2 linked regions of the Homo sapiens genome follow. The protein of the gene in region 1 binds, or shares a complex with, the protein of each later gene. Each region holds a gene or a part of one and is shown on either strand. Other genes may lie near its edges. The genes, in order: PSME4 and PSMB9.

Region 1 (6,735 bases):
CTGGGCAACATGGTGAAACTGTCTCTACTAAAATACAAAAATCAGCCGGGCGTGGTGGTGCATGCCTATAGTCCCAGCTATTCTGGAGGCTAAGGCATGAGCATTCCTCATGGGAACATGGGAGGCAGAGGTTGCAGTAAGCCAAGATTGTGCCATTGCACTCCAGCCTGGATGACAGAGCAAAACTCTGTCTCCCACACCTCCACACAAAAACAATCAATCACCTAGGTCAGTGCTAGGTGAACTTTCTGTGATGATGGAAAAGTTCATCGATATTATTCAGTGTGGTAACCACTAGCCACATGTGGCTCAAGAGTATTTAAAATATGCCGGTGAGACTGAGGGAATACATTTTTTATTTAATTAAATATAAATAGTCAGATATGGCTAGTAGCTACTGTATTGTACAGGGCAGATCCAGATAATTTATACTGGTCAGAGGACATACATTTACAGATACAAATCTATGGCTGCAAAAGGAAATCCACAGGAGTCACTGCCTACAGAACTGTCTTCTCCTCTTAATGAAGACAAAAGCCAGGTGTTAAAAAGAATCCATTTATTGGGTTTTAAACTAGTTACACAACTGAAATCAGTTTGGCACTACTTTATACAGGGATTACGCCTGTGTATGCCGACACTTAAATACTGTACCAGGACCACTGCTGTGCTTAGGTCTGTATTCAGTCATTCAGCATGTAGATACTAAAAATATACTGTAGTGTTCCTTTAAGGAAGACTGTACAGGGTGTGTTGCAAGATGACATTCACCAATTTGTGAATTATTTCAACCCAGAAGATACCTTTCACTCTATAAACTTGTCATAGGCAAACATGTGGTGTTAGCATTGAGAGATGCACACAAAAATGTTACATAAAAGTTCAGACATTCTAATGATAAGTGAACTGAAAAAAAAAAAACCCCACATCTCAGTTTTTGTAACAAGATAAAGAAAATAATTTAAAAACACAAAAAATGGCATTCAGTGGGTACAAAGCCCAAAATCACTATAATAAAGAACTACACGTGAATCTTTACAAATTACACAATGATGTTGTGTAAAAGGTTGCATCTGTACAATGTCTTGCCAATGCTATCTCTACAGTTTATACACTCTTTTACATTTATATAACATATTAAACAAATCAATTAAATATTAAGCCTTATTAGTCTCTCAACGATTCTGCAGGCAAAATAAAAAGGGAGAGAGAATAAAATAAATTAAAAAATTACAAAATTTCCACAAACACAGCAGTCTTCCATTTAGGTGAAGTATAATAATTTTCAGAGGGTCAAAAAATAGTTGTAAAGAATACAGGGAAAAAACAGCCAGTCAGGGTTTTTATTGTTGTTGCTGTTTATTTTTAAAATCACACATTGAATACACACAACAATCAGATTTCTTCACCAAACCCCCAATTTTTTAGCAACTGGCTCTATTCAGCACCAAAAACTCCAGTCTGTGGGAAGTGCACAGACACAGACTTCACTTCTGTGTCTTGGTCGAGCAATCCATCAGGTCATTGGTTAGGTTCAGGACTTGCCCTCTTTTCCTTCCCTCTTCATGGCTCTCCAGACCCAAGGTTCTCAAGGCTTCAGATTTATGGCCCACAGCCCCTATTACCACCTAAATCCAGCAGCCATTTGGGAAGAATTCAAAATAATTTGAGATGAATGAAATGACAGGACCTGTATTACAGATGGGTATTCTCCATTCCAAGTAAACTGTTTCTTAATGAGTTCTGAGACTCTGGTCTTGGATGCCATGATCATACTGGGTAATTATTTCTAGTCTGAGACTTTGTGACTTTGTCAGATGCCTCAAAAAAAAAAAGTGATCAGTATTCTGGAAACACTTCCGGACAAGTTGGGAAATCAAATGGCAACTGAGAAGCTGTGGAATGCAGACTAACGAGATCTAACACAGAAACCACCAAAATGATGAGAGCTCAGCAGAGGCAGTTTTAAAACTTGCAGAGAGCCACCACAGATGGTACCTGAGGGTGTGGAATTTTTGATGAAAAGAGCCTGAAGTGAGGACTAGTCATCTGTATCAGGGAGGAAAAAATTTCAATTAGGTAACAAGACATCCAACTCTAAAAGCCTAATAAATGAAATTTTTATTCTTCCTATTCCAGTAGAAAGGCTTCTGGGTACTCCCTCTTTAACAGAATGGGTGTAAGAATCCAGATCAAGTTCTCACAACTTTTAGAACCCAGAGTCCTCAGGGCCACACAAAATGTCCCAGCCCCACCCAGGAGGCAACCAAGAATAAGATGTATTTTCCTTTATCTAACTATTCCCAGGCTGACACCACTCATCTACAAAGGTCCAAAAGCAGTCACACATTTTCTCTGCTTTAAACCTAAAGCAAGGAGGCACAGCAAAATTCTCATTTCCAATGGCCGTAGCAAAAGCCATGTTTAAAAACAAACAATCCCCGCCATCCAACTTTATCTAAACACTGACATCTAAGAATGTCAGCAAAAAGAAAAAAAACAATAAATATCTAGTTCTCAGTCACCAAACCAATGTAAATTCAGAACTTTGCTGACTTACCTTTCTATGCATAATAGCATGGTGACACAAGAAGATCGGTGAGAACAAGCAGTTGGTCATCAGTGAATTGCTGTTTATGTTCCTGCCAGTTGTCATGGTGAGTCCTTCGGAAATTGGATAAGGTTTTTTTTACAGTCATCTGTAAAGTAGACAACCCACATACGTTTTAACCTCTCTGGACAACCAGGATCATATGTAGGATACTTTTAGTTAAATTACCGTCCCTCTAGACTTCAGATCTCACACAATACCAAGTTCTACAAAACCAAAAAGCCAATGAGAAGGACAAAGTGAATGGTCTTTTGAGTTACTAAAAATGCCATCATAATTTCCTATTTAATATTAGCTTCCAGTAAAATACTTTGCAGTGCTAGAAAAATAGAAACATAAAATTTATCACAACAATATTGACAGTACTTTACTTCCATTGGACTGGGAGGGATAGAAGCTACAATAATTTCCTCACTACCAAAAGATCTCAAATATCCATGGCAGCAAGGTCTCTGTAATTTTTTAATAATTACTGGTGAGCAGACTAAGCCTTGGCAGAGGCAGCAGCTTTATGAAAGCAGTTAGTTCAGAGTGTATAGGAAATTATTATTATGGTTTCTTAGAAAACATCACTGATAATACACGTACAAACTAATAAGGAAGAACTGTACCTCAATAGGCTGAGGATCATTTAGATGTGCACTGAGATTCATGAGGAGCTGGGGCATCCAGGTGGGAACATCGTAAGGACTAGAAAGAACACATGCACCAAGTCCTAGCACCCCAGCATGGCGTTTGACCAACTCTGCAAAGAGAATAGCAACATTTGTGCAAATATATATATGTCTCTAATGCACTTGTTACAGTGAGATAAAATTAGTTTTCAATTGTGTTGTTTTCAATATGTGAATTTCTGCATTTAAAATGAATCTACATGTAAACACATCAAATACTTGATTTTGAGGCTAAACTAAAAATAATTCTGTATTTAAGAATTTGTCAGCTGGGCACAGTGGCTCATACCTGTAATCCCAGCACTTTGGGAGGCCAAGGTAGGAGGATCACTTGAGGCCAGGAATTTGAGACCAGCCAGGGCAATAAAGTGAGAACCTGTCTCTCCAAAAATAATTTTTAAAAATCAGCTGGTGGCCAGGCATGGTGGTTCATGCCTATAATCCCAGCACACTGAGAGACCAGGGCGGGTGGATGACCTGAGGTCAGGAGTTCAAGAACAGCTTGGCCAACGTGGCGAAACCCTGTCTCTGCTAAAAATACAAAAATTAGCTGGGTGTGATGGCATGTGAAGTCACAGATACCCAGAAGCTGAGGCATGAGAATCATTTGACCAGGGAAGCAGAGGCTGCAGTGAGCCAAGATCGCACCACTGTACTCCAGCCTGGGATACAGAGTGAGGCTCCGTCTCAAGGAAAAAAAAAAAAAAAAAAAAGCTAGGCATGGCAGTGCATGCCTGTGGTTCCAGCTAGACAAGAGGCTGAGGCAGGAGGATCGCTTGAGCCTGGGAGGTCAAGGCTGCAGTGAGCCATATTCAAAACCACTGCACTCCAAGGAGGGCGATAGAGGAAGACCTTACCTCAAAAAAAAAAAAAAAAAAAAAGGATTTTTAAAGACTTCCATAGTTGCTTATCAATGACAGCATAATTGTACCTAGGCCAGTACAATCCCTGATTCTAAAACAATCTCCAATCAAAATTAGCGTGGTTTTTTTTTTCTGGATGTGACGCCCCTACCCAGAATACATCAATTCATTAGTAAACACATCATGTATGAAGAATGTCTATTTCTTAAAACAGAGAATTGCAGCATGTCTGTATTCTAAAGAGTCTCTATTCTTTCTGTAGTAGTGTAAGTTAGTTCTGTAGTGGTGTAAGTGGTTTCAAATTCTCAGTTCCTCAATAAAGGTGTGTGTATTCACATGTTTTAAAGCATATTACATTTGTATTTGTGACACATGGAAAATAGGGAGTTGAAGGTAAGGAAAAGAGAATTTGGACTGGTCAAAATTGTGAACAATATCATTTGGTGTAACAAAAGACCTAAAAATACTTTGGTGCTTTATCATTAAAAAAACAGAGTTCTCAGGCCAGGTGCTGTGGCTCACGTCTGTAATCCCAGTATTCTAGAAGGCCCAGGTGGGTGGATCACTTGAGGTCAGGAGTTCAAGACCAGCCTGATCAACATGGTGAAACTCTACTAAAAATACAAAAAATTAGCCAGGTGTAGTAGCGCGCGCCTGCAATCCTAGCTACTCGGCTAACAGGGGCATGAGAATCGCCTGAACCCAGGAGGTGGAGGTTGCAGGGGGCTGAGATCATGCCACTGCACTCCAGCCTGGGTGACAGTGGAAGATCCTGTTTCCAAAAAATATATATTATAAAATATATTTATAATATATATATATATGATATATATTATAAAATATATTTATAATATATATAATATATATTATAAATATATTTATAATATATATAATATATATTATAAAATATATTTATAATATATATATAATATATATACATACATATATATATCCCAAAAAGCAAAGATACTAGAATGTACATTGATATTTTATTGGATTCTGTTACTAGGTAACTTTATGACATAATTAAGACACTAATCAGCAGTAAAAGCTTTATATTTAAGCACTTCCTCTAAATTCAATAAAATTCCTACTTACTATTAATCTTTTTATGTATTTTCTATTATGATTACAGTTAACATGGCAAGATGCATCTTTGTAATCACATTTACATTTCTTTTTAAACATGACATAGTAGTCAGATCTTATTCTCGTGTTTATCTTGTGTCTATATTCAATTAGATTGGAAGCTCCTGCAATGACTCCGCACCCTCTCACCAAAGGACTAATGAAGGACCGAATAATCCCCTCTCCAAATAAAAAACAAGGCTTGCTTTAGTTTTTTCTGTTAGTACATCTACATTTAAGTTCTAAATTCCAAAACAGGTTTTTCAGACCCTCCAAAATAACTAATTCTGAATATCTCTTTTTTATGAAGCTATTCTGGGCGGAGGGTAGACTGAATACAATAGTTGTTAGGTAGCAGTTCTACAGGTTCCTTTCTATCTACCTCAATTTTAGCTTTTCTACATTCCAAGTCCTGCTTTCTATATGCAAAACTCCTCAAAAGTAGGGAAAACTTTTCCCAATACCTAGCATAGACCTGGGCACATACATACAAGTTATTCAATAAATATGAGTAAGCCTGGTTAACCCTCATTAATTCCCAATAGGATACAGGTGTTTCCTACCAGCAATGTTACCTGCAGAAGGAATGGTATCTCCTACAGAACCAGGGTCTCGCTTTCTTTTCTTAGGTAGTTTTGTTTTGCAAAGTTGCTCAAAATGAATCTGCATAGGACTGTCCATGGTAAGAAAGTTACACTGTAGCAGACCGCTTAAGGTAGTAGCAGCCATTTCTCGAACCTGTAGATATAATAATTTCTATTAGGACTGACATTCTAAGTCTGAGGGAATAATGGAGGATAGGGGGTAGTGTGGGAACTGGGGTGAAGACCTTCCCTGAAATTGCATGCAAATTTTGTGTATGCTCTTTGGCAGTTTCTTAATAGAGATTTCAGCAGATTCTCAAAGAGTTTGTGGCCTCATAATGGATAAAAACTACATTAGGGTTATGAGCATAAACTTTTATCTCTTTTAGCAAAATTAAATTTCTCCATAAATTATTTTCCCTACTGATAGCTCTCATCAGGGCTATAACTGTAAAAGCAGTGCCAGAACCTGACATTAAGATCAAGTTTTTCCAGACTCTACATCTCTGAAGGCCACTGCTATAGCTATTTTTGTTAGTAACAAAGACACAGACCAACCTAATTTCTGTAATTGGCATACATCATGGAGACTTACATCCTATGTGATTCTTATGAATTTCACAGGCTGCTGTCAGATCACAAACACAGTTTACAAAAGTACTAAATGAAGCGTGTACACAGTCCATTTCAAATTGGAATGGTAACTCAACTTTTGGGAAAACAAAAAAGCGGTAAAAAGACATTGTTTCACATATAAATCACAAACATTTGTTTAATATTCATAATACACAATGATAATTTTAAAAAACAGATGTTTTGCTCTGTTGTATTCCTTCAAAAGGTTTCTCATAATTTTATCATCGTCTGTCGAGTAC
Region 2 (3,470 bases), on another chromosome or scaffold:
GACATTGAATGATCACCCTCAAAAATTCCTGAGTTCTGGTTGGGTGCAGTGGCTCACATCTATAATCTCAGCACTTTGGGATGCCGAGGTGGGCAGATATTTGAGGTCAGGAGTTTGAGACCAGCCTGGCCAACATGTTGGGACCTTGTCTCTACTGAAAATACAAACATTAGCTGGGCTTGGTGGTGGGTGCCTGTAATCCCAGCTATTCGGGAGGCTGAGGCAGGAGAATCACTTGAACCAGGGAGGCGAAGTTTGCAGTGAGCCCAAGATTGATCCACTGCACTCCAGCCTGGGTGACAGAGTGAGACTGTCTCAAAAAAAAAAAAAAAAAAAAAAACCTGAGTTTTAACTTGGTGACTGTTGACTCCCTCCTGACAGCGAGGCGGTGGTGAACCGAGTGTTTGACAAGCTGTCCCCGCTGCACGAGCGCATCTACTGTGCACTCTCTGGTTCAGCTGCTGATGCCCAAGCCGTGGCCGACATGGCCGCCTACCAGCTGGAGCTCCATGGGTATGAAGCTCTGGAGTTCTGACTCCCCACCCACTAGAGCTCCCCCAACCTGCATGAATCCCTGTACAGTGTGCTGTTCCAGGAGCTGGACACTGGGAAATGGAAAAGTCTTGTTTCGGCTCTTGCTGGCACTTGAATCTGTCAGTTTCTGCATCTGTAAAGTGGAGATAATATAGTACCTCATGAGACGGTTATTTTGAGAACCACATTCTATATGTGAACACAGTTTAAAAGCTGTAAATCACTATCCTGATATAAATAATCAGGAAGAAGGTGATATTGTGACCCACCATAATATCAGGCAGTTACCATACGAGAAATCAAGGTCGTTGGGACGGAAGTAACCTTATCTGCTTTTCCCCATAAGAGCAGGGTCCTTGCAGCCAAAAGAAAGTTATGTGGGTGGGGCTGAGCAAAAGAGTGAGCAATTGAAAGCTTCTTACCAGTTGGTGGTGTGGGACTCTGGTTCCCCTGTACATGTGGGAGGGAGGCTGCAGTTTGAGCTATTGCAGTTACAGTTTTCAGGGGTCGTTTAGCAGGGATGATGGTAACAGTATAGGAGAATGAGACTTAAAATTCTATCAACCTTTATTCCTAATATTTCCCTCAGGATAGAACTGGAGGAACCTCCACTTGTTTTGGCTGCTGCAAATGTGGTGAGAAATATCAGCTATAAATATCGAGAGGACTTGTCTGCACATCTCATGGTAGCTGGCTGGGACCAACGTGAAGGAGGTCAGGTGAGTTTCTCCCAAAGCACTCTCTCCTCTGGGCTTCCCCACTCTCCTGCAGAGGAAGATGGAAGTCCTATGTCATTCTAGCAATGAGTTCCAAGGACACTACCTCTGAAAGCATAGTACTTTGGGGATATGAGATACCAGGGCTTCATTGCAGGGTGCAGAGACCACTTAATGTCTCAGTGGGAAGGAAGGGCTTGATGATTCTTTAACCTGAGGATCCCTTTCCCAGGTATATGGAACCCTGGGAGGAATGCTGACTCGACAGCCTTTTGCCATTGGTGGCTCCGGCAGCACCTTTATCTATGGTTATGTGGATGCAGCATATAAGCCAGGCATGTCTCCCGAGGAGTGCAGGCGCTTCACCACAGACGGTAACCAGCCAAGTGGAAGGGTACCTGGGGAGGGCTTTGAAACATGGGAAGGAAGTAGATTATGAGGAACAGGAAGAGAAATACAGGGGTGGCCATTTAAGTTAATGCCGGGCCTGGTACACTTTTAAGAGTGAAAAGGGGCAGGACAAATGCAAAGCTCAATGGGGTTCTTGGGCAATACGGATAAACCAGGGCTGTTCTGAGTAAATCAAATGAGGATACACAGTCACTGTGAGAACCAGTGGTGTGCTAAGCACAGTGGCTCACACCTGTAATGCCAACAATTTGGGAGGCTGAGGCAGGAGGATTACTTGAGCCCAGGAGTTTGAGGCCAGCCTAGGCAAGATGGTGAAACCCTGTCTCCACAAAAAACAATAAAAAAAAGTAAAAAAAAAAATGAACTGGGCATAGTGGTGCACACCTGTAGTCCCAGCTACTCAGGAGGCTGAGGTGGAAAGATCATCTGAGCCGGGGAGATCAAGGCTGTAGTGAGCGGTGATTGCACCACTGCGCTGCAGCCTAGGTGACAGAGAGAGACCCTGTCTGGAGAAAAAAAAAAAAAAAAAGAACCAGTGGTGTGCTGAGGTGTGCTGAGGCTGGCTTGGGACCACTCATGAGAGCGGACTGTTAAATAGTCAAGGATTTGTGAACTGCTTAGCTATTTGTAACTTGCAATTCATCATAGCGGGAGCATTTACACCACGGACATCAGCAGATGCCACATATGGAAGCCTTTTTGTAAAAAAACTGATTTACCAGCACACCACTAAATATGCCTTCCTGGAAGATGAGTTTTGAGGTGAAAGTGGTAGTAGGCATATGGATGGAGGGGGAGTAAAAAGATTTTTGAAGCTAAGCCATCCTCTCTCTCCCTCTCTCCAACTTGAAACCCTCTGCAGCTATTGCTCTGGCCATGAGCCGGGATGGCTCAAGCGGGGGTGTCATCTACCTGGTCACTATTACAGCTGCCGGTGTGGACCATCGAGTCATCTTGGGCAATGAACTGCCAAAATTCTATGATGAGTGAACCTTCCCCAGACTTCTCTTTCTTATTTTGTAATAAACTCTCTAGGGCCAAAACCTGGTATGGTCATTGGGAAATGAGTGCTCAGGGAGATGGAGCTTAGGGGAGGTGGGTGCTTCCCTCCTAGATGTCAGCATACACTCTTTCTTCTTTTGTCCCAGGTCTAAAACATCTTTCCTAGAGAAAACAAAAGGGACTAAACTAGAAATATAAAGAGCCCTATACATGACAGGTGATCACGTACTGAATGATTTTGAAGTAGTACAAACAATAAAAATTCTCATTCCGCATCATCATGCGGTCCATGATGATGAGGCCGCAAGTGAGGTGATGGGACTCTTTCCTTTAAGGCTAAGACTGACAGATAGGCAAGACACCTACACACATGAGAATTAGCTAAGACTATCAGCAAACTCGCATGTAAAAGAATTCCTTTCATAATGCATTCATTCATATTAAAGGGCAATACATGAAAAATGCTTAAATATTTTGGGGCACTTGTGAATTTCAAAGAATAATGACAATAACCAAAAGAAGCTACATTTGTGGCATTGGCTAAATGTTTTATAAATTTTATCTCTTAAAATTCAAACCAAAAAACCCCCTGTATTCACACCTGTAATCCCAGCACTTTGGGAGGTCAAGGCGGGAGGATTGCTTGAGCCCAGGAGTTAGTGACCAGCCTGGGCAACATAGTGAGAACCCCATCTCTACAAAAAAATTTAAAAATTAGTCGGGTGCGGTGGTGCATGCCTGTAGTCCCAGCTGCCTGGGAGGCTGAGTGGGAGGATCGCTTAGGCCTGGGAGTTTGAGGCTACAGTG

What was found.
Region 2: PSME4 (region 1) and PSMB9 share a complex: the UniProt entries of both Homo sapiens proteins name them as parts of the spermatoproteasome.

The regions. Positions count from the first base shown.
Region 1 is NC_000002.12:53,863,525-53,870,259, forward strand, and holds the end of PSME4 (proteasome activator complex subunit 4), read right to left. Parts: intron 6,015-6,735; coding exon 5,852-6,014; intron 3,357-5,851; coding exon 3,223-3,356; intron 2,700-3,222; coding exon 2,565-2,699; 3' UTR 2,561-2,564; intron 2,050-2,560; 3' UTR 545-2,049; downstream 1-544. UniProt on the Homo sapiens protein: Associated component of the proteasome that specifically recognizes acetylated histones and promotes ATP- and ubiquitin-independent degradation of core histones during spermatogenesis and DNA damage response.
Region 2 is NC_000006.12:32,856,882-32,860,351, forward strand, and holds the end of PSMB9 (proteasome subunit beta type-9 precursor), read left to right. Parts: intron 1-381; coding exon 382-513; intron 514-1,123; coding exon 1,124-1,253; intron 1,254-1,482; coding exon 1,483-1,624; intron 1,625-2,523; coding exon 2,524-2,651; 3' UTR 2,652-2,970; downstream 2,971-3,470. UniProt on the Homo sapiens protein: The proteasome is a multicatalytic proteinase complex which is characterized by its ability to cleave peptides with Arg, Phe, Tyr, Leu, and Glu adjacent to the leaving group at neutral or slightly basic pH.